Regions from separate parts of the Homo sapiens genome. Here all the other regions are linked to region 1. Evidence: fine-mapped expression QTL. A gene starts in region 1. Each other region holds a variant in brackets. All regions are shown on one strand. Distances are from middle to middle.

Region 1 (5,108 bases):
GTATGCATAGTAAATGTGTGCTTGTTTATGACTGCTTCCGACAGATGATGAACTAGTGTCCAGGGCAGAAGGAGGAAATCTGCTTTTCTTCTCTGTAGGTGAAAGAGAAGCCTATGGACAGTATTTCTATTTCAGTTCTGAAATGGGCATTTCTAAAGGGAAAATATAGCAGCAAAGGAAATCCGGGCTCCAGTTCTAGCTCTGCTACAAACTCACTCCTGCACAAATGGCTTCAACACTTTGAGCCTAGGTTTTTCTGTAAGTAAAATTAAGTGATTCTAACCCTCTATATCATCACTTCTGCCTCTCAGTCTCCACCCTCCCATGAGAAGCACAGGTTGCACTAACCCACATCTGACCTCGGCAATTATTCCCGAAACCCCATCAGATGCCACTGTGAGAGTGTCCCCCTGAGGCCCTCTCACTGAAAGTTCCTCATTTGAAACGTGCAGTGGCCTCCTGCTTGTCCCATCATGAGTAGCCTGAGCTACGGGGCCTCAGAAGACCCTCCCCTTGGTTGCTAAGAACGAAGCTGTCGTTATTTTCAGGAATAGAGGGAAACTGTCCCCACTGAGGCACTTGGATGGTGTTAGAAGGACTACCTTCAGAGTCCCTAGAAAAGAAACTCTAAAACTGGGCTCCAGTGGAGCCAGCGCTAATGAATGACTAGGGTTACAATGCCCTCTAGAGACTTACTCGGGAGTGTTGACCCAAATGATGTCCAGGTGGCAGAAGTAGACACACTCTTTATCCATCAGGGACGAGCAGGAGCAGCGCTTGGACCGGCGGAGCCGCCAGGGTGGACTGGGAGTGGGTTTCTCCCCGCCGTTCTCACCCACCGCGCTGAGCTCAGCGCCTAAGACTGCTGGGGAGAGAAAGAGCAGGTCAGTGGGGGATGTCTCCTCAAACGCCGAGAGACATGCTGGATCACAGTAGAGTCAGAGCTAGCAGAGCAGATAAAAGCAGATGAAGCACACAGCCTGCCATCAGCAAGAAACACAGAAAAAAGGGCTCTTTATTTTTTTCCCTCCTTAACATGAGTTCACCTTTTGCCTCCCCCTCATGCCCTTGGCTTATCCACCTTCAGGGAGATTACACAAATGCAGAGGAGATAAACACCTGAAAAGGGACTTCCCCCACCCCTCTTGAAGCAGGCTCAGGGAAATGCTGTGGAATGCTGCCTGTTGAAAATCCGGCTGGCTTCTACAAGGAACTTGGTAGGACAGCACTATCCACTGAAGCTTACTTAACATTGGCACATGACTAAAGACAAGAAATCACAGTTATTCCTAGCTTTGGGGCCACTTCCCCATTCAGGATGACCCTCTCTTTAGGGGGTACCCATCCACTTCACATGCTGTGTAGGGCACAGGGTACCCCAGATGATGTATATCTTTCAAAATTAGGTGGGGAAAATGATTGGAGAGAGAAATTAACTATTCAATATTCAATTCAGGAGGGTAACTCCATAGAAACCAGTGACCTAAGGTGGGGCTGAGAAGCAGGTCAGGGGACTGAAGGTAGGCTGGGGGGATTTTGAATTCCGAATCCCTGGGCATCAGGCTTGTGTGGGATCCACTGCCTCCCCCTTCTCCACTACTGCCTTGCCTCTTCCTCCTAACAATTTAGCCATGCAGCTTATCTGCCCAATTTTGTACATTTCAAATGATCAGACACATTCCAGGATTTTCATTCCCTTGACATCCTTTCTCTTTAGTCAGGGTCACGAAAAGACAAAAAAAGTGCACTGACCCTAAAAACGGGGGGGACCCGGGCAGATGCACACGCACTGCCTAAATCCTTCGGCAGCCAAGAATTATCCTAGCTCCCCTCCCAGCACAGGTGAATAAAGCTGAAAAGAGAGCTCACACTGTTTTGGGTGCCAAAAACCTGCCAAAAGAAACCTAAAGTCAATGATGACAAATTTTAAAGAAAACATCTGCTTCACCCAGAAACCGCCTGCGGGGGGTGGTGGCGGGGGGGGGGGGAGGCGGTAGTTAGTCAACAGACTTTTGCTCTGCAGGTGATTTTACTGAACATACATTGCTTGAACGACTGGATACAATTCCTTGGCTTCAAGCTGGAATGCTTAAATATTTTACACGTTAACACACTATTAAAATAGTGTTTAAATAAGATTTAAGTTCCTATATGGCCTGTGTACCTGTATAAACACATATATTACAAACATACATTTGACTAAATTGTATATGTCCATACTCTTCTCATTTTTTAAAAGCCAAGGAAACACATAATGGAATAATAATAATAAAACGATAAGTTATTTTAATGTCATGTTATAGTCAATTGCACCTAATTGTATTCAATAGAGGAATTTTACATTTTACACTAGAAGACTTAAAGTAGCTTTCAGCAATAATTCTCAGACACTTGCTCTCTAAGCTGCAGTCATAAAAAGAACGGGGAAAAATAGAAGCAAGAAAAGCATGAAGGTGGATAAGAACACACTAACTTGTAATTCCGAGACTTACAAGTCAACGAGCGTGCCTACCTGTTTCTGGAGCTCCTTGGCAAGCCACAAACAGCAGAGAGAAAATCATGAGCAAATAATCCATTCTGAAAAAAAGGGATCAAAAACCTCCCGTTCAAACTGAACCCAAAGGAAAACGAAGAAAAACAGCTTCAGGTCCCTCAAAGCGCTGCGGGTTCCTCAGATCTCAAAGCGATCCTTCAGCCCAAGTGCCCTTTTAACGGGGAGAAAAGGCAGCGCCTGCCAGGAGAGAAGGCAGCGAGCGGAGCGTCTGCAGGCGCACGCGGCGGTGGAGAGCTGGGACTGCAGGAGGCGCAGGACCCGTTCGCCTGGCGCAGATGCAGAGGCGCGTCTGACTTGGACAGCTCTCTGCCGGCTTTTTATATTGAACCCCTATTAGAGTGGGGGTAAACAGCTCCGACTTTATTCCAGCCCCAGACAATGTTATTGTGTTATTAGTCACCAACAGGCAACGTGCAGCCGGAGATAAGGCCAGGCCCGAAAGGAAATCACTGCTAACTTCAGAGGCAGACGCCCGCCGTCTGACAATTCGGGGGCAGGGCTAAGAAAAAGAAAATACCCATTAGAGACCTTTGCTAAACCTGCCCGTGCAGTGCTGGAGTCCGCTTCCCCTTTGCAAGCTGCCAGCCCCGGAGTTCAAGAATCAGAAGAGGGGACTCCAGAAAAAAAGTCATACCATTGGTATGAAAAGTATGAGCCACAGTTTAAATAGATTGTATTGTTGTGTGCGGGGAATTTTTTTTAATTGTTGCTCGCTTCATTTTCCTTTTATGTCTCTCCGATTCTAGTCTCAGTCAAACAAGGGAATGCTCTCCCTCGTCACTGCCCCACTACTGGGGGTCAGACTATTTTGGCAGATCAACGTACTTTTCTCTTCAAGCCCCTTCCTGCGGGTCTTTTTTGCTGAAGTTCTTTGCATCTATCGGAGAAAGATCCGTGAGGGATTGGCAAGAAAGGGAGCTTAAAAATAACATCAGAGCTCGTTTAGGCACATGCCCAGTCTTTTCCCTATCACTGATGAGAAGCCCCGATAAGTTCTTTTGTGTGTCCACACTTCCCCTGCGGAGGAGGCTGATAAACTGATTGAAAAGCAAAGGTGTTTTTCACACAGAACTTAAATCTTAAGATTGGTCGGTGCCACCAATCTTAAGACATGGCGGGAGAAGAACACCAGGGGGAGATGAAGAGCTACAGGGGCTGATGTTTTACTAGGACAAAAAGGAAAACCCTTCTAAATGGCAGAAAAAAACGCAACCTGGCTTGGGGGCCGAGGAGGGTCAAGGAATGTTGCCTAACATAGGAAGGAGGAATGCACCTCAGAATATTCTATTTATTCCCCGCACAAGCAGGGACATATTTTCTGGGACTCTTTTTTTTGGGGGGGTGTCTTCATTTAGGGCAAAAAGGTGTTCTTGTACAAGGTTAAGTGAATATGCAAGGAAGGTGGTGCTGAGAAGGAAATGCCATTCGAACAAGGAATCAGATAATACTTCACATTTAATAATGTGTTTACATTTTCAAAACAATTTCCTGTCTATCTAACCTTGAAATCCCCCCCTGAAGTACACACAGGGCAGTTACTGTACAGGTGACATCATGCCTTAATAAAGAAAGCAAAAGGTGCATGGAACACATTGGCTTTTTCCGCTAGTCCCATTTTTCAGGTTAGACAACTGAGCACCCAGAATTTTTGTTTGTTCTCCACCAAAGCGCTCACAGTGGCCCAGTAAGACCTATGGGATAAATTTAGAGTCTCTTCCCAGGGGATGCCATCAAATACACACTTTGTCCATCTCCTCTTTTTGTTTTACTCCAGTTTTTCTGGGGATGGAGGGTGGAATTCAAGCACGGATGAATTTCCAAGACTGGCACAACACACATGCTGGGAAACCTTTTTTCCCTCCTCCTTCTAAAATCAAAAGGACAGTTTTTATCCCAACAGCAAAGCCGTGGGTTTGGACAGACTCAGATCCCCAGACCTCCCTCGAAGTCACAGCTGGGGGAACAGGGACAGTGGCAGCGACAGGTCCATAATGACATGCATCCTCTAAAAGAGCCACTGAAGCAAGAGTTGGAGATGGGAGAGAGAGAGGCAAGAACTCTCCCTCCCACACCCACACCCACACCCACACCCAGAGATGCCTCCACCCTATCCCCAGGGCCTCTGCCGGGGCCCCTGGCCTCCGCTGTGCGCTTACCTCAGCCTAGCCCCGGGGCCCAGGGAGGCCACAGCTCCCGGAGGACAGGCGGCACTGAGCCGGAAGCCAGCGCTGCCGCCTGTGCCAGGCAAGGGTGCCCTGACCTCCCTCTCCAAAGCCGACCTTGGGAGAGGAGAGGAGAGCTGATGTCACATTCACAGGTTCCAAGCAGCGCCTCCCCCCCAACACTCCCGCGGAAGAAAGGTGGCCTGGGAAATATGTCTTGGCAGGGACTCCCCCTACTTTTTTTTTTTTAACCTTTTGGCAACTTTGACCAAACACTGACAACAGTCAGGACCAACATGTTCTCAAGGCCCCTACCCGGAAACCACCGCCCATGCCCTCCCCAATATTCTCAGGTCCAGCCTGGGTTCTACTTCAGCTGGAGTCCCTTCTCC
Region 2 (5,108 bases), 130 kb after region 1:
ATATAGATATACACGTATATATGTATATATAATATACATATATACGTGTATGTGTATATATGTATATATACACATATATATGTATATATACACATATGTATATGTATATATAATATATACATATATACATGTACATGTATATATAATATATACATATATACATGTACATGTATATATAATATATACATATATACATGTACATGTATATATAATATACGCAGATATACATGTACATGTGTATATATTATATACGCACATCTATACATGTACATGTGTATATATTATATACGCACATCTATACATGTACATGTGTACATATTATATACGCACATCTATACATGTACATGTGTATATATTATATACGCACATCTACACATGTACATGTATATATTATACACGCACATATACACATGTATATATGTATATATATTATGCATATATGTATATATGTATATATATTATACACATATATGTATATATGTATATATAACATATATATGTATATGTATATATAACATGTATATATACATGTAATATAACATGTATATATACATGTAATATAACGTATATATAACATGCATGTAATATATACATATATTATATATATACAAATATATATTACAAAATACATATTTTGAATATTAAGTAGGAAATTTAGAATTTTAAGTCATGGGAAGTCACTTTGAGAGAAGATTCTTAAGGTGATATACATGCTGTATTTAGAATTTATAGATGGTTTTGAAACAAAATTAATGAAAATCATCTTTCTGGTATTATTTGAAGTTGACTGCAAAATGTAAGATGAAAAACAGAAAAGTCAAAAAGAACCCTGATGTTATAATTTGAACTGAGCATGAATCAAGATCTATTAACTATCTTGACAGTCTTCCAACAAAAATAATGATTATTTTCCATAATCCTTATTAACTGCTATCATTTAAAATTCAGGCCAGGGATTAATTAGTAAGAAACGTGTTACTTATACTGTTTCTGTGAAAGGAAAATCAGGTCTATATTATGAAAAATATAACTGAGAAACAAAATTTGTACATTCAATACCATCGGTTAATTATCATTTCGAAAGAAATAATTATCATTTTGGCTTAAAGTTTAGGGAATGAAAATAAGTTATTGGAACGCCCTCGATTTATGTTATAATACATTTTCATAAGCCAGATATAATAATCTTTAACTAGAAAAACGACCTGTGGTTCTTCAGCTGTTTTTTCCAGTACTTCTGATGATGGCATTGCAGTGGATTCACACAAGGTATTGAAATTGTTACACATTAAAACTTTCACCTGTTTTGTCAATAAATTATCTTACTATGTCATTGCACCCTAGTTCTCTACAGGCCTGGGTCTCCACACACGACAGTGCAACAGAATAAAAGTCAAATGTAGTCCCATTAGTTCTCCGAATTACATTATTTGGAAGTCGTTTATATTTGGGAGTATCAAGTGGACACTGCTCCTTGGGAAAAGACGACTTCGGAGAAATAGCACAAAATTATTGTTCCCTTGTCTATTTTGTGCATGTAATTTCAAAATATAATGGCTTAGACTTTGGTAATATTTTTTATAGAGCTGCATATTTCAAATACTAGCAAAATACTTGAAAGGCTACAATAAAGCTTGAAAGTTGCCAATAGTAAAGGTATTTGCACGATGCATTGAATTTTGAAAAGCCCAAAATAAGAATCTTGAAAAGTACAAAATAAGAGTAAGGTACATTACAGCATTATGAAAATTTCAAGGGAACATCCACTCACATCGTAACACTTGTCTTTAAGTATAGGAATTTTTTAAATTAAGAAAATTCTATAGAAACTAAAAAACCTCAATGCTAAAAACTCCAAGCATTATTTTTGAATTTAGAGAAGTCATCTGTACTTAATTATGGAGTTAAGAATATGCTTATTATACTGCTTTAAAATTTTAGGCAATAAAAAGTTCATGACACAGTTAAAACATTAATTTTGAGAAACTGGACAGAAAACAGACCTCATTTTCAACAGCTATTATTGATAGGGCAACGCAATCCCTAGAGCAGATATTTCCAGAATTCTTTCCAAAGCTATCTCAGAATATAAAAATGTAGTTTTATTGTTTTTGAGAGAATTTTGTTACTTAATCTATGGAAATATGTAAATGTAAATTGAAGCATTCATTTAAAGCATCACAGATCCACCAGTGCGTGCTGGGACTGCAGCACACCTTGGAGATCCTAATTGAGATAAGGATACGCAAGTTGAAATGCCAGGTCTTTGCAAAGTCACAGACGTGAAGCTGGGTTGGCTAGCAGCAGGTCTCCAAACCCCTTAGTAGATAGGCTGTCCCCTACCTCTCACCTCGCAAACCATGCTGTTGTCTTACTTATTTCATGTCTCTGCAATCTTTGTTAAGCAAGCCTTTAAAAATGTGAATACATTGACTTAATGATGTGCTAAGTATTTAAATTCCAACATTAAAATACTTTTCTCATAAACCTAGCATCTATAATCATTAATAATGCAAATCACTGCACTGGTAATTGGGGGCTCCCCATGCCGCCATATTTTCCTGAATAAGGATGGTTCAACCTTCCAGGACAGGAAATAGTAATGTCTAAAGAGAGTCACTTAAGTAATTTAGAAGTCTGAATTTGGCTCTTCGGTAATCTTGGACACTCTGTAGTTCAGTGCTGGACAGAGCTCTGTGAGTTTAACAGCATCAAGGGAAAGAAGAGCCCATAGCCCACGAATGGATCTGGTGTTGGAGCCTGGAAATGAGGTTATACGGGTCTCATCTGAGCCAAATTCTAAGGACAATGGGGTTTAACTCATGTTTCCCAGAAATTTCCATACCCTCATTTAGGAACGTTGCCCATTTTAGGCTATATGCTTTATGTATATACAGAAAGTATTCTTATATATTTAGTCTTCTAATAATAACTATGAAATGACTTCTCACAAATAAGAAAAATAGGTCAATCAGTTGTATGGATTTCAGTTACAGTTTCACATGGTAGAAAGGC[G/A]AGTAAAGTCTCTGTTTATAAAAAAAATGAAGGGTTGAGGGGAATGTGGAAAGAATGGAACCCAGGGCTATTTTCCAAATGCAGATCACTGATCACTGGATGATATAAAGAAGGCACAACTGAAGCAATGGTAAAGTCAGTAAACAATATTTTACTGAAACATTTCATAACACAGAAAATCTGTCTGAAGTGTAAAGTTACTGTCTTACACAAGGAGGACAGACCCATTTTCAAAGACTAATATGAATACAATAAATATGGAGTTTACATACTAATTTATACACAGAAACTCTGCCCCATAGCCATAAAATTTATATTCAACAGTGGAACATATAATTTAATCATTTGATTTATTTGACAGGTTTTCCTTACTAAACACAAATAACTACCTGGTTTTCATATACATATATAATATATTTTTATGTATATAGATATTCAACAATCTGTACAGTTTCTAAACATAAAGCTCCTAAAAGGCACAATTGTCTATACAACATGTACAAAAATGGCTGGAGCTGACACAAAACAACAATTATTGGTCAAAAGTTCATGATTGCACAAAGATTAGTCATGAGTTTATGTCAGAAAAATGTGCTTTAAGGAAAGGAGGGTTTTCAAAGAAACCTTTAAGTGTTATATAAAAAAAAAGCAAATAAAAAATAAAATCCATCAGGTTGCTATCACAAGCCTGTCCTCGTCATCATCGCTGCTCACGTCGCTGAAGTGCACAGTGGGCTGCCTCCGCGGTAGTGCTGTGGGCCTGGGAACCTGTCTGTCTGGAGAGAGAGTCTGCTGGCCTGAGGGCTTTGTAAAAACTTCAGAATGTGCCTTCAGCAGAGGTTGTGACGTGGACGCTGGTTGGCCCTGTATGGAAGTGAGTTCAGGCTTGGGCTTCACGTGATTTGCCGAGGCAGCCTTCTCTGTGTCCATTTTACTCAGGCCATCAAGCCTTGCATGGTCACCTGCAGGGGCAGGTGGATTCAGAACTTTTTTTGCATTTTCCCGCTGGACTGTAGGTAACCCCTGAGGAGACTCGGTCCTGCTGACCTGGTTTGCGCTGGCTACAGAAGTCTGCTTGGGTTGTGTCTCGCATGCTTTGCTTTGGGAAGCTGGCATTTCTGGAGCTCCCTGTGCATCAACGGCTACTTGACTGACTGAGGGGATTAAGGTGGGCAATGCTATGTTCAAGATCTGGAGACCTGGAATGTGTGCCTGAGGGGCGGGGCTGCTTTGTGATGAAGGGTTTGCAGTCAGAACCTGCAGTCCGACAGCATTCAGAGCCAGTCCTGGTGGATGGACTTGTGGGGCCATATTTGTATTGGCTAGGCCTACAATATTGACGGTTTCCATGCTTAACGAGGGGAGTGACTGCAAGCCTGGGGTACTTAGGTTCTGAAGGCCTGGCACGCGGATTTGGCCGATAGGAATACATGGCACAACACTGCTTAATTCAGCCACTCCAGCAGGGTTTGTAGTGCCAGACACTTCTGTGACCGTATTCCTATGAGTACCCAAAGTTCTGTGAACGACACTGACAGCAGGGATCGTGAGCTGCACTGGTCCAGCCTGAAGGGGCACAAACGTGGAGTATGTGAGGCCAGCAGGTACCACATGGATCCCCCCAACTGGAACCATATTATAAGGTGTCCTCGATTGCTGCTGGGAATGCAAAGGAAGGTGGCTAAACAAATGAGTGTGGGGAGAAGGCAAGCCTGGAGTCGGCTGTAGAGTTATTTGCTGCTTCTGTTCTTGAGGGTCAGGATGTGGTGAGGCCACAGAAGGCATCCCCGCTGCTGTCTGGGGGCTGTGCTCAGCTGCAGCAGGAGGAAGTCTTACAGATGATGGGCTCTAAATGACAAGAGAGAGCAATCCTTTTATGACAGGTCTTTTGTAATCACTGAGATATAAAGCTAGTGCTAAATCTATTTCTTCACAATGAGATAAAAGTAAGTATATTTGCATTGATAAAAATGATGTTTGCTGCAATGAAATTATTTTTCGATTTTTAAAAATAAGCTTCCAATTAAACAATTATTACATCTTTAATTTCGTTTCTGGTAGAAATAATGGCAATACATCTTGTATAGTCTTTT
Region 3 (5,108 bases), 39 kb after region 1:
AGATCTTTGTCCTGGGGATATGGTCCACAGCTTTATGGGGTTTACAATCTGGTGTGGACTCCAGACATATCAACAGGCTGTTATAATCAAGTGGAAAGGTACTATGATAGGGGAAGTTCAAGGTTCTATTGGAACACTCAGAATAGGAACTCGACCAGATTTGGCAGAGTGGAGAGTGAGGAAAGGTTTACAAGGAGAAGTGGTGTCTAAACTCAATAGGAATTGGCCAGGCAAAGGGAGACGGAAGAAGAGCGGGTACCAGGCAGAGGGAAACACCCTCAAGGTGAGAAAGCGGCTGACCCAGTATTTGGGAATTGCAAATGCTCACGTGGCTGGATATAAAAAGCAACAAATGAGATACCAGCCTGGAGAGATAATCAACAGTTAAACTACAGAGGGTGACATTAAGGAGTTCTGGACAATGGGATGCCAAAGGTGTTTTACACAGAATAATGTTATAATCAGATGGGTAGACTGAAAGATAGTTTGGAGCTCCCCATGGATAGTAGATTTGATGAAAACAAGCAGGAGGCAAGGGAACCAGTTAGAGGGTTGAGGTAGAAGGCCAGGTAAGAGATGATGGTGTTCTAAATGAGCAAAATGTCAGAAAGCACAAAGGGAAGGAGATGGATTGAGATGTATTTAGGAGGTAGAAAAACAAAACGTCACGGGCGGTAGATTGGGTGTGCGCAGGGACAGAGGAGTAAAGAATGATGCCCAGGTTTTTGGCCTGGCTTTGGGGGCAGTAGGACAATACCCTCACTTAGAGAGGCAAGAGCAGAAACTGAGTCAGATGAAGAATAAGAAGATGGACTTTGAATGTGTTGACTTTTATTATTAGTAGTAGTAGTATGAGTTATTCTTTTTGTCCTATTTAATGCTGTTCCCTTTGACTTCTATTTTGTCTAAGCAATAATTTTTCTACCCTACATTTTGTGTGTGCACATGTGTGTGTAAATTCCTGGAAATTAAAGTCTTTTCTTCCTCTTCTACATAAGCTAAAATATTTATCCCTTTTTCACTCACTTTTTCTATCCTTTTATATCCATATGCTAGTTTTTGCTATTAAGACTTGAGGTATTATGTGATTTCATACTATGCATTTTTTGTATCTTGTTTATTTTCTGATTCTCCTGTAGAATATAGGCTTTATAAAGGCAGACTTTGCATTCTGCTTAATTTTTGTCTGTTTAATTTACTGTTGTAATCTCATTGACTAGAATGCTGTCTAGCATATAGGAGGGGGTCTGATAAATATTACTGAAAAAGTGATTATTTTTTCATTATGTATCTTCTCTCTCCCTTTTTTGACAGTTGCATGCATCTTTCAAATTGCTAATTTCATTGCTCATTGGGAGTCTGTTTCTAACTCAATTTAAGCTCTTCATTTTATGAAAATCTTGGCAGGCTATAGAATGTGTTCAAGCATTTTTTCCTTTGAGTGTGTGGGGTTATATTTTATGGTCCTCGCCACAAAGAATAAACATAGATTATAGTTTGGTCACAAACTTTTCCCCTATAATTCTGTTAGTTGCTTCATTGTCTTTGGCATGTAGAGTTTTAAAGAACTCCTCTGAGGTTAGTTGGATTTCAGTTTCTTCATAGGTGATTTCCTCTACCTCTCCTCTTCCTCTTCTTCTTTTTCTTCTTTTTCAATACAGGTTGGATATTTTTATCTTTATCTTCTAACTTTATAATTACTTGTTCCTCAAGGACAAATTTATTCATCTTTGTATACCTAGTATCTTGCAGAGCACGTGGCTTATAGTGAGTAGGGAGTGAACACTGCATGAATACACACATGAAAAAAAAGACATAAATGAAGTTCATGCAAACTTAACTATTCTTTCTCTACTTTTCTGTCAATCCCAAATTTAACTGGCATTGGTGTGGCTTAAGAGAAGTCAGGCCCCCACCTTGCGTTCCTGCAGAATTATCAAGTCCTGAAAGTTCTGGAGAGCCAACGTGAACATGCAGGATGCTTCACCACTATTGGCATCCAACCCAAATTGAACCCTTCTTTCAATATCTTTATTATCTAGCAAGCTGCAGAACCCTACTTCATAATGCTCAATTCTTTTTATATTGGACAGTTAACATGGCAAGGGACAGAAATGGAACCTAAATTTTTATTTCGTTTGTGTTTTGTATGAAACAAAAGCACTGTCAAAGACACAAATCATGTATGAAATTAAAACCTCAGTTTTGTTCTTTTCTTTATCCTCTTTCCTTGACTACCTCAAAGCTGGTTTCTGCAAGTAGCAACAGAGTCCTATTAGAACTTCAGCAGCAATGATTTATGTTTATGTAATATACCAAGAACTCTTACATTAGACCCAGATTTTAGTAAATGAAATGGAGAACAAAGCAAATTGAATCCAAGTCCAGCAATATCTAAAAGGTATATCGATTTGGCCTAATATAAATGCAGAAACCTAAAAGGATGCTGTTAATTACATCCTTACACATACACATTTATACAAAAGTGCTATCAAGCAAAAGGAACTTGCTGCCCAATGTTCTAGAATCCAATAATATAA[C/T]ACCAAGTTTTTGAGAAAGAAAAGCTATTTATTGCAAGTTGACTTACAAGGAGATATGAGTCAAGCTCAGATCCATCTCTCTGTGCTGGTTTTAAGGCAATACTTTTACTAGAAAAGGTTTAAGAGGGTGGATTCTGAGATTAGCAGGTAATTGGTGGGAGGAAAGGAGAGGTCTGAAAGACCCTCAGGCACGCACAGTCATCCCTTTGTGCTTCCTTATAGGTCCCATGTGCAAATTTGGGGAGGAGTTAATATAAAACGTGCAGTGGAAATCCAGGCTGTGACATCAGCAAGCTTGTTCTGTGCAAACTCCAGCTGGCCGTATCGGTTCGAAAAGATTTCAGCCAGTTTTGTTGTCTTACAAGTGGAGGGAGTTTTAGTGTTTCAGGAAGCTGTTTCTTGTTTTTAATCTGACATCCTGCAAACCCAAGAATTTATATGAGTTATTGGTTTCTTTAACTTTTGGGGCACGTTTCACAAGTAAATATAAAATGCACTTCTATCAGGGTCACCTAAGAGTGTGCTCATTTTAGACACTTGTAATGTCTTCTTGGAAATTTAGGAGACAGAAATAGCAAGTATTCCTTCTTGAATGACACCTCAAGTTTGATGAGATATCATTCACATTGATTCACGTTAAATAGTGTGCCAACTGGCTTTACTTGCTTTATTGATTTTTAGCAAGATCTATGTCACTTATTGCTTTCATTGTGTAAGTCTTTCCAATATTCCAGCTAAAGAGTTGTCTACCATTAATCTCTTCATTCTGTTAAACAGTAAAATAACTTATTAGTTAATTAGCTTTTTGGGGTATGGCTTAAGTTATCTTTGGTCTTTTGCTTTATTTGGATTTTAATATCCTTTCAGTTATGAATGAGTGTTGTGATATATCCTTTATCAGTATCCCTAGGTACAGCAGCTAAGGTGGTATCTCCTCTAATAGTCCTTTATTTTATACTTGCCATAATTTTAGAGGCAATTTCCTTAGCAAACCTTTCAGTCTCAGGAAGCATGGCATCATCTGTGTTGCATCAGTTAAGCAGAAATGACTTGTTGGATTTGATTATGCATTTGAATAGTATTAGAGGCAATTAATGTGTGGATAACCTCCAGTTGTTATATACAAAGATGCCAAGAGGCACTCAAAATTTGGGCTTAGGGAGTCCTTGACTTACCCAACAAAGAGAGTAATTGATTTTGTTATTTAACTCCCATCTCCTAAAGGGATATCTTTTGAAAGAAACCTTTAAAAGGAATGCTATTTTTTTTCTTAAAAGTGTATTTTTATGGTGCGATAAAAATTGTAGACAAGGAGAGTTAATGTGCTCCTAATTGCCAAATTTTAAATTTCAAATCTTTTTTCCTTTATAAACAAGTTACAAAGTTTGCTCAGATATAGGCATGAACAGGCATTTCCCCAGATTATGCAACATGGAATTTTTTCAAAACTCAATCTTACACAGAATTTCTCCCACAAAGCATAACAAACTCTTAGCAATCCTGAAAATTTCTACTCATTGATAGTGATAAGAAGACAAGAAATTTTGAATAATATTGGCAAATAATTGAAATAAATGGATTCTGAAGATACCTTCTTCAAGGCAATTATCCTGCAAAACCTTTAGCTATTCTTACCAGTGGCAACAGTGAAAGATAAAGAATTTATTGACAGAGTATCAATTCCATGGTCAAGTCTAACTAAAACAGAAAAAACAAAGGACAAATCATCAAAATACAAAAAAGTGCATCTTTTTAATCTAACTTAGGCCATTAACCACAAATATGACATCATATATTTTCCAGCAGTCAGTGAACACTTTTTTGTAACTCTGTAAATTTGATTTATCTTGTATGCTTCTGAGGGATCAGGTTACATAAGAGTGCATGGGTCAGGAATATTTTTCTTAAAGTCAAAAATGCTCTTGAATCTTAATTTTACTTTATTATAACCCCTTACATAATCCACATACATATGCGTGTGTGTATATGTACATTTCCACATATGCCAAAAGTGTTCAAAAAGTTGTTTCAAATAGAAGTTTTAACTTCCCCTTGATGCCAGGGAATTTGCTTGTTTCACTCACAGGTGAGCGTGGTTCTGGCAGTCTCTGGTGTCTGGAGAGAAAAAGGTAGGATCTAAACAACTTCCAACCAACCCTGAGGGGGTCAGAGAGGTATAATCAGCAGTAGGACTGTCGTAAATCACAATGAAGTAAATGATAACACACCCATAGGCTTACCATGCCTTGCAAATAAGGACTCTGGCTTTGCCAGCTCTTACCAAACTCGTTAATGCCTTTCCTTCACTCCAGGATGTACACAGCCATAAAATGATGAAATGAACCTTCCTTATCATATCCTATAGCACTTGTTTGCCCCAGGTGAGCAGCTATTTACAATGGAGCTGTGTTGCTGGGCTCAGATCACCCTTGCTTTCTCTCTGGCTCTGACACCATAAACTTTGTCTTGTCTCAATGCATAGCATCCTAGATCCCCTAAGTAGGGATGTATCATTTTATATTACTGGAAGACATTTGCCTTACATCTCTGAAGATCTACTTTTCAGAA
Region 4 (5,108 bases), 49 kb before region 1:
AGACGATTTGCATCCTGTCCCGAGATTATACATGGATTTAGCTGGCCCCTCATTTGACTGTGAGGGTCTGGGGACAGAAATGGCAGGTCGTTCATCTCAGCCATTCCAGTGCCTGCTGCAGAGACGCTTAATGTGGAATGAATGAATGAATGAATGAATGAACATTTTAATTTATGAAAGCAGACTTAGGGAAATGTCTGTGAAGACAAGCAGTCTTCACAGCTTCATCCCGGTGACAGTGGAGGGAGGGGCGGAGGGGAGAGAGGTGCTATGGGCTGCTTGTTTACAGACCACATGTTTAAGCCTCAGGCTTTTTTAGTGCCCGCTGCACTAAAACAGGGCAGATACAGCTTCTCCAGGCCAGCTTCTCCAAGTCTTTCCAGCATCTCTGCCTGTCTCGCTCTACTTGCTAAAGCTACAATTGGCTTTGCCTGCCCCGTTGGCGGGAAGGGTGGGAAAGACTTTAGTTTAGAAACAAGTTGTTAGTGACAGAGCCTTTTCTAATGCCGCTGACAGCGTCCCTCAAATGAAGCACTTCTTCTTCATGCTGAATGCGTTTGTGTTATCTGTAGGGGAATTTTGAGTTGGTGTTTTTGCCATTTTTCTTCTTAAATTTCATTCATTTAATTAAGGTATAATTTAGATACTATGAAATGCACGGATCTTAGTGTTATAATTCAACGCATTTTGACAAATGCATACACCAGTGTAAACTTACACCCCTAATATATCTGCCATCCCAGAAAGTTCCCTCGTGTCCCCTCCCTATCTCCACTGTAGGATAATTTTGTAAAAGTAAAAAAATGAAGTGTTGGCTGCGATGCCATTTGTGCACTAGTCAAAGCAGACTGGCTTTATGTGAGTGAAATCATTAGAAATCAACACAATAAATTACTTGATCCAGTACTAAGTGTTTTAACTTGACATGGATTTAGAGAAAAGAAATGCATTAAATGCATTAAAATGTCATCTGGGGTGCTGTTAGAAATTCGGATAAGTGAGCCCACCGCAGCACCATTAAGTCAGAATTTCTTGGCATGGCATCCAGGAATACATATTTTCAATAAAAGTCCCCAGGAATTCCAACGTGGAGTAGGGGCAGGAGGTGACACCAACGACGCTGTTGGTGTGGAGACCAAAATGGTCTGTTATGACTGGACAGAGATAATCATTGATCGATGGGGAAACAGAGTGCCAGAGAAGTATAGTGGCTTGTTCAAGGCCACGCAGGGAATTCATGTTGTGGCTTGCATTTCTGGGAGGGCAATAGGAAAGGCTGGGATCACAGTCATCCACAATGGCCCAGAAAACTATTTGCCCCTGAGTTGTTCGTAGAGGTGACCAGAACCCAGGGCCAGACCCAGGCCTCTACTGCCTCCCTCACCCCGTCCTGCTCAACAGTTCTGGAGGCCACATAGGGAAGGGACTCTGCGTCTGATGGAAAGCAAGAAAGGAAAGCACTGTTTATGCCCTCCAGCATTCAGCTCCACAGACCCACAGCCCTGAGGATTCACTGGTGACATTATAATCTGCCCCCATCCCAACTCTTCTCCTCTTGACAATGTACTCTAAGAGACTGAACTGCTTTGGTGCGGTGTGTGGGGGTGGGTGGCAGGCAGGCTTACCACTGACAGGGATAGGTCAGTGCAGGCAATTTATCACCCAGTGGAACTCCTCCTTCCCATCTGCCAAATACACAAATAAATCAGGCATCAGAGCGACACCACTGGCGAACGGTCCCGGTGGGACCACATCCAGCCGCCCAGCCTCCCCGGCTCCACTGCCACTCAGGCAGTGTTTTGGTGGCACCTCAAGCAGAACTGTCCTTTCTTTCCCCACCCAGACAAACCCAAACAGTTGAGAAATAATCAGAATGAACTGGTGTCCTGATGAACCTTTGATCTTCCCGAGTGTCAGTGTCCAGCCAGTGTGTGAGGCTCCCATTGAGGAGGCTGCAGAGTGAGGCGGAAAGTCAGTAGTGTTCAGAAAAGCATGGAGTCTTTTTAGCACTCTGTCCCTGTCCCCTCCACAAAAGATAGCACTGGATGACCAGAGCCCACTGGCCAGCTTAGAGGGACACCAGCGTCAGAATCCAAGGGAAGACAAGACTTCGGAGCAGGCAAGAGGACCTGCCCTCTGCCCCAGGTGAGGGCTATGACTTGAATCATAGGCATTTACCACGGCAGGGGGCCATCAGCCTCTAGCCTCTACCTGGCTGCTCTCACAGCCCCTGACAATGTCTGCCACTCCCAATATGAATTAGCGAGATGGGCTTCCATGCAGGGTCCCCAGATTTGCCCCAGTAATGCCTGAGGAGCCCGTGGGAGAGGAGGCAGATGAAGTCTCAAGAGCACTGGGGCCCCTCTCTTGATTCTGTTGGGATTCTGCTGCCCCAAGAGCCTGGCTAAGCCACTTTAATCTCTGGGCTTTGGTTTCCTTATTTGTAAAATGTAGGGGTCAAATTAAGGTGTCTTTCAGTTCACTCCCAACATTATGGGTTTCAGTCTACCCCTCCCAAACCAAGAACCTTGAATTTGTTTCGATATATTTTATTTCCTATTGGGTGCAGATCTATTGGGCACACAGCCGAGATGGGCAAAGGTCTAGCAATCATTCCGGGTAGGAAGGCAGACACCTGTGTGTAAGATTCTTAATGGTAGAGCTCTTTCCTTATTTATCTTTGCATCCTTAGGACAAAATAGGTGTTCAGTAAGTTCTTGTAACATGAATGTGCAACTCATATAAAAACCAGGGCTCCATTTGGCCTATTCCTGACTTGCTCTCTTATTCAGAGAAACACTG[G/A]GTATCCACGAACAAATATTTAAAACTCATTGCAATTATTATGGTGTCTCTTGAGAAACTTCTAGGGAGGATCTATGTACACGCCTCAGAAACCCTTCTTAAAATCCCTGCCCTCTTTTCTCCAGCTATCTTCCACCTGCTGCGGTTCAGGAACCTCTTACACTTTAAACATGCATTCTCAACTTACTTTTCCCCATTTTATGTCACAAAAGCCGGGTGTGAACCAACAAAAGACTACATTTCCCTTCCAGGCATGGGAAGTAGGAGCAAAGACAAAATTGTTCTCAGCAGACCATGGCTAAAGGGGGGAACACCACAAGAGGAAAGAGAACGAAGCCCTATTTATTAACTTTATCATGAGTAAGTGCTGTGTGCATGAAGGCATGTTGGAATGCTGTCTGCATCATCAGCTTTGCAGATCAGTTTCCCACACATCCACAGTTTTTTGTTTTTTGTGTGTATTTTTGAGATGGAGTCTCACTCTGTTGCCCAGGCTGGAGTGCAGTGGTGAGATCTAGGCTCATTGCAAGCTCTGCCTCCTGGGTTCACGCCATTCTCCTGCCTCAGCCTCCTGAACTGCTGGGACTACAGGTGCCTGCCACCTCGCCTGGCTAATTTTTTTTCTTTTTTGTATTTTTAGTAGAGATAGGGTTTCACCGTGTTAGCCAGGATGGTCTCGATCTCCTGATCTCGTGATCCACCCAACTCGGCCTCCCAAAGTGCTGGGATTACAGGCGTGAGCCACCACGCCCAGCCAAACATCCACAGTTTTGAAGGAGTCACCTAGGTGATCTGATTTCAGGAGTCAGATAGTGTCCACTGCCTCCCGTTATTGTAAATACGGTCAGATGCCACGTGATATTTCAGTCAATGCTGACCGCATACACGAGAGTCCTGTGAGATCCTCATACTGTATTTTTACCGTACCTTTTCTCTGTCTAGATACACAAATCCTTAACACGGTGTTCTAATTGCCTACAGTATTGCCTATATACCGTAGTAATGTAAGTGTAAATAGCAGGTACATTCTGTGTTGATTGCATGACAATGAAATCACCGCTGGACAAATTTCTCAGAACGTGTGTCTATCCTTAAGCGACACGTGAATGTATGTACTTTCATTGCTTTAAACTCAGAGGTTTTGGACCTTGTCAGTCAATTAGCACCAGAAGCAAGTGGTGGTAACTCTCTGTGTGACCTTAGGCTGTCATCCATCTTGCCCATGCTTCTGTTAAATTGAGAGGGTAAAGAAGTGTTAAGCGCCGGGCGCGGTGGCTCATGCCCGTAATCCCAGCACTTTGGGAGGCCGAGGCGGACGGATCACGAGGTCAAGAGATCGAGACCGTCCTGGCTAACACGGTGAAACCCCGTCTCTACTAAAAATACAGAAAATTTGCCAGGTGTGCTGGCGGGCGCCTGTAGTCCCAGCTACTCGGGAGGCTGAGGCAGGAGAATGGCGCGAACCCAGGAGGCGGAGCTTGCAATGAGCCTATATCTCATTGTCTCCAGCCTGGGCGACAGAGCGAGACTCCTTCTCAAAAAAAAAAAAAAAAAAAAAAAAAAAAAAAAAAAAAAAAGAAGTGTTAAGCAATGATTCTGCCACAGTGGGTTGGAAGAACGGGCTTGGGAGAGTTTTTAACTCCTTTACTTCCAGCCCACTCCTCCATTAAATAGAGATAATCAGGAATATTATGAGGTTTAAATAAAATTATAAAATACAAGCCAGGTGTGGTGGCTCACGCCTGTAATCCCAGCACTTTGGGAGGCCGAGGTGGGCGGATCACCTGAGGTTAGGAGTTCGAGACCAGCCTGACCAACATGGAGATACCCTGTCTCTACTAAAAATACCAAAAATTAGCCAGGCTTGGTGGCGCATGCCTGTAATCCCAGCTCTTCGGGAGGCTGAGGCAGGAGAATCACTAGAACCCAGGAGGCGGAGGTTGCAGTGAGCTGAGATCGCGCCATTGCACTCCAGCCTGGGCAACAAGAGCGAAACTCCGTCTCAAAAAAACAAAAACAAAAAACAAACAAACAAAAATACAAAATCATAGCAAAAGTCTTGGCCCATAGCAAGCATCTGATAAATGTTAGTTATTATTAATATTGTAATTCTCTAGTGTTTCTTTGAGCTTGAATAGCCCACAAATCTCTGAGTGTTGTTTGACTCAAACCAGGAGCTACCTAGGTGAAGAAGTTAAGTGAAACCAGCATGGGTAGCCAGAGTTGTCATTTGAGTGTCTGGAATGAAAAGGGCCTCATCAGTGCTTGCTTACGTAATTCATCAATTGAGAGGAGAAAATATATAA
Region 5 (5,108 bases), 49 kb after region 1:
AATTCGAATCACTATGGTACAGTTTACTCATCCACATGACAAATACATTAATTTCTTGCTAACTATAGGCTTTTGGGGATATAACTATAGATGAAATGTAATCTGCCTTCAAGTAGCTCATAGTTTATAAAACCATCAGAAAAGGAAATTCTTCTCACATTCATTTTATGTATGTATGTATTAATTCAGCATTCATGTATTTGTTTTGTCCCCTCTGAGCCAGGCACCAGTATAGACATTGGGTTGAAAGACACAGGACTTGTTAACCATGCTTGGAACTCACAGTCCTGAGTACAGATAGGAATACAGTTGACCCTTGAATAACATGGGTTGAACTGTGCAGATCCACTTGCACAAGGATTTTCATTAATAATAGTTACCCCCAGTGTGCCTGCCTCTCCTGCCTCCCTCCCACCTCCTCCACCTCTTCCACCTCTGCCGCCCCTGAGACATCAAGACCAGCCCCTCCTCCTCCTCCTCTCCTCCTCCTCCTCCTCCTCTCCTCCTCCTCCTCCTCTTTACTCAATGTGAGGACATCACGGATGAAGCCCTTTAAGATGATCCACTTCCACTTACTGAATAGCAAATATATTTTCTCTTCTTTATGATTTTTTAAATAACATTTTCTTTTCTTAACTTACTTTATCATAAGAATACAGTATATAATACATATAACATACAAAATGGGTGTTAATTGGCTGTTTATGTTATCACTAAGGTTTCTGGTCAACAGCGGGTTATTACTAGTTAAGTTTTTGGGGAATCAAAAGTTATCTGTGGATTTTTGACTGCAAGGAGAGTTGGTGCCCCCATCCCTGGAGCTGCCTAAGAGTCAACTGTAATTATACAAATGAATACTCTAGCATAATTCTAAGTGCTCAGGAGGGTAGGTACAAAACTCCTTGAGTGATATCACAGAGACCTGAACCCAGCCTGGAGAACAGAAACAGCCTTCATGAGAATCATAATGGTTAATAGAGAGCATTCCAACTGGAAGAAATATTATATACAGGCCATGAGGAGGGCTGGAGAAACAGAAAGGTCAGTGTAGTCAAAGCATGTTCAGCCAAGGAGGAGCCAGAGGGACCTGGCAAGGTGAGCAGCGATCCAAAGCCACCTACCCAGGGAGCAGCAAGGCTGAGATCCAAACAAGGATCTACCTCATCCCAGTGTGTAACTAGCACCTCACTATCTCCCCTCAAAAAATAAATTACGCCACATACCATGGGATATACTTTATAAACACATTTGCATGTGCCACTCACAGCAACCTTATAAGGTAGGTCCATATAGAGACCTATTTTATAGAGGAAATGACTGAGGCACAGAGAGGTAAAATAACTTTCCCAGGGCTACACAGTCACAAAGTAGCAGAGGCAGAATTGGAGCTCAAGCAGTTGGCTTGAGAGGTCACACTCTTCAGAGGTCACTACTCACTCCACCACCTTCTAGTCCACACAATTACTGGGTGGTAGACCTGGTCCTTGCAATCAGGCGAGTCAAATCTCTCTACCACTTTTCAGCATGACCATTCTCATTCCCTGCGTTAGAAATTAGCCTAGAGAGAACTGGTTGTAAAATCACACTGACTGTTGGGCGACACCCTCAAATCCCTAGAGACTGCACACCTCCAGAAAGCCTTTGGTATCGATGGTCAAGGAATTCCCAGGCTGCTTCCTGGGTCTCACCTGAAGTGAAACAGCTTTGCAGCAAAGAGGAATATGCTGTTGAGGAAATTCTTTCAAAGCTGAATCTCTTCCTTCCTCATTCCAGATAAATTGCATTAATGCATAGCCTATTACCTAACGGGGTTATGGTTTAACTTCCTTCCCCCAAGCCTTTTATGGGAATGCAGTAAAGATGGGTGCAGCCTGCACAGCATGGGCTTGACTCTTTCAAAAGAAATTCCCACCATCACACCCTTGTTCTCCTTGGTTTATTGAGTTTAAATTTGTAGGAGGCAAGTATGTTGATGCAATTTGCAAAAGTTACTGAAGATAAACCACCTACTAGAGAATGCAAGAGACTGGAAACAATGATTGAGTCTCCAAAAAAAGTGTTACTCATAGGATCATCTTCTATGAACATGAGTAAGAGAAGAAAACCATAAGCTGGTTTCAATTCTAAATACATTTAATTTCCAAAAGCAAAGGTGAGCAATTATGTATTCCACTTACCATAGAGCAATGGGCCACCTCATCAGACAAAAACACAGACCCGTACTTTTTTTGCAAATAACTTTTATGAAGCTAGTGCTGGGCCTATAAAAACCCAGTTGTACTAATACCTCCCTCTTTTCCTCTCCTTGAGCCATCTCTCCCACCAAGATCTCCAAAGATGCCTGCTTATAAAAGTGTGTCCTTCCCAGCACTTTGGGAGGCTGAGGCGGGCAGATCACCTGAGGTCAGGAGTTCAAGACCAGCCTGGCCAACATGGAGAAACCAAAACCCGGTCTCTACTAAAAATACAAAAATTAGCCGGGTGTGGGGTGCACACCTGTAATAACAGCTACTCAGGAGGCTGAGGCAGGAGAATCGCTTGAACCCAGGAGGCAGAGGTTGCGGTGAGCCAAGATCACACCACTGTACTCCAGCCTGAGTGACAGAGTGAGACTCCATCTCAATAAAAAAAAAAAAAAGAAAGAAAGAAAGAAAAGAAAAAAAAGTGCATCCTAAGGTTCCCACAGTGTAAATGTCTTCCAAGAGCAGTAAGGATTGGGTTCAGCTGAGAGTGACTGAAAATTCAAAATCTAAGTGGCTTTAAGGGAATAAAAATTTGCACACTCATCTGAATGTAAATGATCCAG[G/C]GCTGGCATAATGGCTCCACCATGCTTAGAAGGTCCAGTGCTTTCTACCTTGATGTTCCATCTCCCTCAGCACACAGCAGGATCAACACCAGCCATCACATCTGTGTTCCAGGCAGCAGGATGCAAAAAAGAGACAAGATAAAGCCACATGATCTCCCATTAAAGACAATTCCTGGGAGTTGTACACCACTGCTCTTTATAGTCCTTGGTTCTTTCAGGTTCACAGAACCTAAGGGATAATAGATATTGAAAGACAGCTATGTCTCCCCTTTGGCCACCCATGTATCTCAGTGTACCCTTATTTCCATGTTTGAAATGTACTCAACCCCTGTACTCCCAGATAAAGAATCCCAGAGTTCCACCAAATTCATGCATCTGGTTCTAAGTCCAGGATTTTCAGGTACTATTCCATGCTCTTTATCAGGTCTGAGTGTAACTACTCATTTTCAGGGGCCCTACAAAATAGAAATGTAAGTTACCTAATACAACACACCTACAAGTCCAATAAGAACAGGACAAACTTTATATAAACAAACATTTCTCCCACTCAGAAAAATTAAAAACTGAGAATCACATAATAGTTCCTTATCTCTAAATATTATCAGATCCCACTGGGCAGAAAGAGAAAACAAAATCATGAGAGTCAGCTGGACTCTCACCTGCTCACTGGGCAAAACTTCTTCATTCACTGCCGCCTGTGGGTTTTCTCTCCCTTTAGGAAATGTTTCCCAGCTCATAATACTCCCAAGTGCGCGCCTTTCTTAAAGCCTTCACAGCTTTCACAGCCTTCCTGCTGGCTGTCTGGGAAAGGTGGTCACCTTAGGTATTGAATGGTCAAAGGCTTTTGCAGTCTAGACTGCTGGTCTCTTTGTCAATACAAAATTTCATGGCATCTGGCCTACCTGAATTCTACCAATTCTGCCTATAAGCAATCAGAATGATGATGTCTGAACATGGATTTTATCCATAATACCTTTGCTTTTATTTTACTTTATAACCTCTGTTCCACCAAATCCTCTCTCTCACTCAACCTACACTCCTTTTATCATGCTATTCTATTTTCTTTCTTTTTCCTTTTCTGTTTTTGTTTTTTGTTTTCTGTTTTTGAGACACCCAGGCTGAAGTGCCATGTTGCAATCTCAGATCACTACAACCTCTGCCTTCTGGGCTCAAGTGATTCTCCTGCCTTAGCCTCCTGAATAGCTGGGACCACAGGCACACACCACCATGCCCAGCTAATTTTTGTATTTTTTGTAGAGACCAGGTCTCCCTATGTTGCCCAAGCTGATCTCAAACTCCTGGGCTCAAGCAATTCTCCTGCCTCAGCCTCCCAAAGTGCTGGGATTAGAGGTGCGAGTCACTGCACCAGGCCTGTTCCCTCTATTTTCAACAGAGGATTTTTACTTTATGGTCCAAAATGGTTCTTCTAGCTTAAGCCATCATATTTAAGTTATTGCAGGTAGGGATGAGAAAAGAGGCAGGAGAAGGGCCTACCCCTACCCCTAAAAGATAGATCCTGGAGCCTTACACATTTCTTTTGTTTATATCCATTGACCAAAGTGTAGTCACTTGGCCGTATCTGCTGGAAGGCGGTCAAGAAAATGTAATTTCTTTTAGGTGGCCATGACCTAGCTAGCATTTTGAGGCTTTATTATAGAGTCAGAAAAAGGAACAAGAACATCCAAGTATAATTAGCAATCCTATTATGTTAACATGTGTATTTTTAAATGGGTTTATGGAGACAGACAATTACTATGGAGAGTGTAATATACATCACAGCCAGAAAGGAACACGAATGATTGAGGCAACATTCTCCAAGCAATGCTGCTTATCTCATTTGCCCTGTGACAACTCTGGGCCCAGAATTGTCACAGAACCCAGAACTGAGGTTCTTCAGTCAACTTGTAATGAGGCCCACTGTGTGCCAGGAACTGGGTATTCACAGGACTTGCTGAAAGTCTGCCTAATTTATACTGAAGAAGTTGCTATAAGTTGGAATTTTATTCCAATAACTAAAAGATCCATTGAGAAGAGCTAAACTCACCCAACTGATATAACACATGCAGTTTTTCAAACAATTGGCGTCAGTGCTGTATATATTTATACACCAATCCAGAAATAATCTACCGTATGGTTCTCATGTAATTTCTAATTCATCTTCACTGGGAAATTGGGATGCCTTTGGTCAAGAGGAGCTAAAGGAAATGCTTGGTTGCACAGCCTGCCTGGGTCCTATTCTTTCACTTTCCTCTTTGATTTTGATTTTGTGGCTACAATGGTGGTTTTCTTGCATCAGCTTACA

Which allele goes with the higher level. Positions count from the first base shown, and alleles are read on the strand shown. Sizes are in standard deviations (SD) of each study's normalised expression. Not every link is listed here.
In carriers of allele A in region 4, the expression in lymphoblastoid cells of the gene that starts at base 2,845 in region 1 tends to be lower than with G alone (moderate effect, 0.68 SD a copy in TwinsUK).

The links.
Region 2: its variant is fine-mapped to the expression of EDN1 in whole blood (TOPMed, PIP 0.99).
Region 3: its variant is fine-mapped to the expression of EDN1 in whole blood (INTERVAL, PIP above 0.99).
Region 4: its variant is fine-mapped to the expression of EDN1 in lymphoblastoid cells (TwinsUK, PIP 0.95).
Region 5: its variant is fine-mapped to the expression of EDN1 in whole blood (TOPMed, PIP 0.92).

The regions. Positions count from the first base shown.
Region 1 is chr6:12,288,098-12,293,205 of GRCh38, reverse strand. It overlaps EDN1 (endothelin 1), which reads right to left and starts at 2,845. Exons shown (of 5, transcript NM_001955.5): 1 at 2,513-2,845; 2 at 697-865. The coding sequence starts at 2,576. RefSeq lists enhancers at 2,913-2,982, 2,993-3,092, 4,236-4,736, 4,737-5,108.
Region 2 is chr6:12,163,038-12,168,145 of GRCh38, reverse strand. It overlaps HIVEP1 (HIVEP zinc finger 1), which reads right to left. Exons shown (of 9, transcript NM_002114.4): 9 at 3,147-4,863. The coding sequence ends at 3,685. Among named protein-coding and RNA genes, the nearest start is that of EDN1, 120 kb to the left of the region's middle. RefSeq lists enhancers at 3,460-3,960, 4,680-4,729, 4,790-4,849. The variant G/A (reference allele first, on the strand shown) is at 3,016.
Region 3 is chr6:12,249,437-12,254,544 of GRCh38, reverse strand. All of the region lies in intron 2 of LOC124901260 (a long non-coding RNA gene), which reads left to right. It also overlaps a transcript of EDN1 not described here. Among named protein-coding and RNA genes, the nearest start is that of EDN1, 38 kb to the left of the region's middle. The variant C/T (reference allele first, on the strand shown) is at 2,541.
Region 4 is chr6:12,336,703-12,341,810 of GRCh38, reverse strand. No RefSeq gene overlaps it. Among named protein-coding and RNA genes, the nearest start is that of EDN1, 49 kb to the right of the region's middle. The variant G/A (reference allele first, on the strand shown) is at 2,803.
Region 5 is chr6:12,238,697-12,243,804 of GRCh38, reverse strand. LOC124901260 (a long non-coding RNA gene) reads left to right here. Exons shown (of 3, transcript XR_007059454.1): 3 at 2,311-2,358. It also overlaps a transcript of EDN1 not described here. Among named protein-coding and RNA genes, the nearest start is that of EDN1, 49 kb to the left of the region's middle. The variant G/C (reference allele first, on the strand shown) is at 2,807.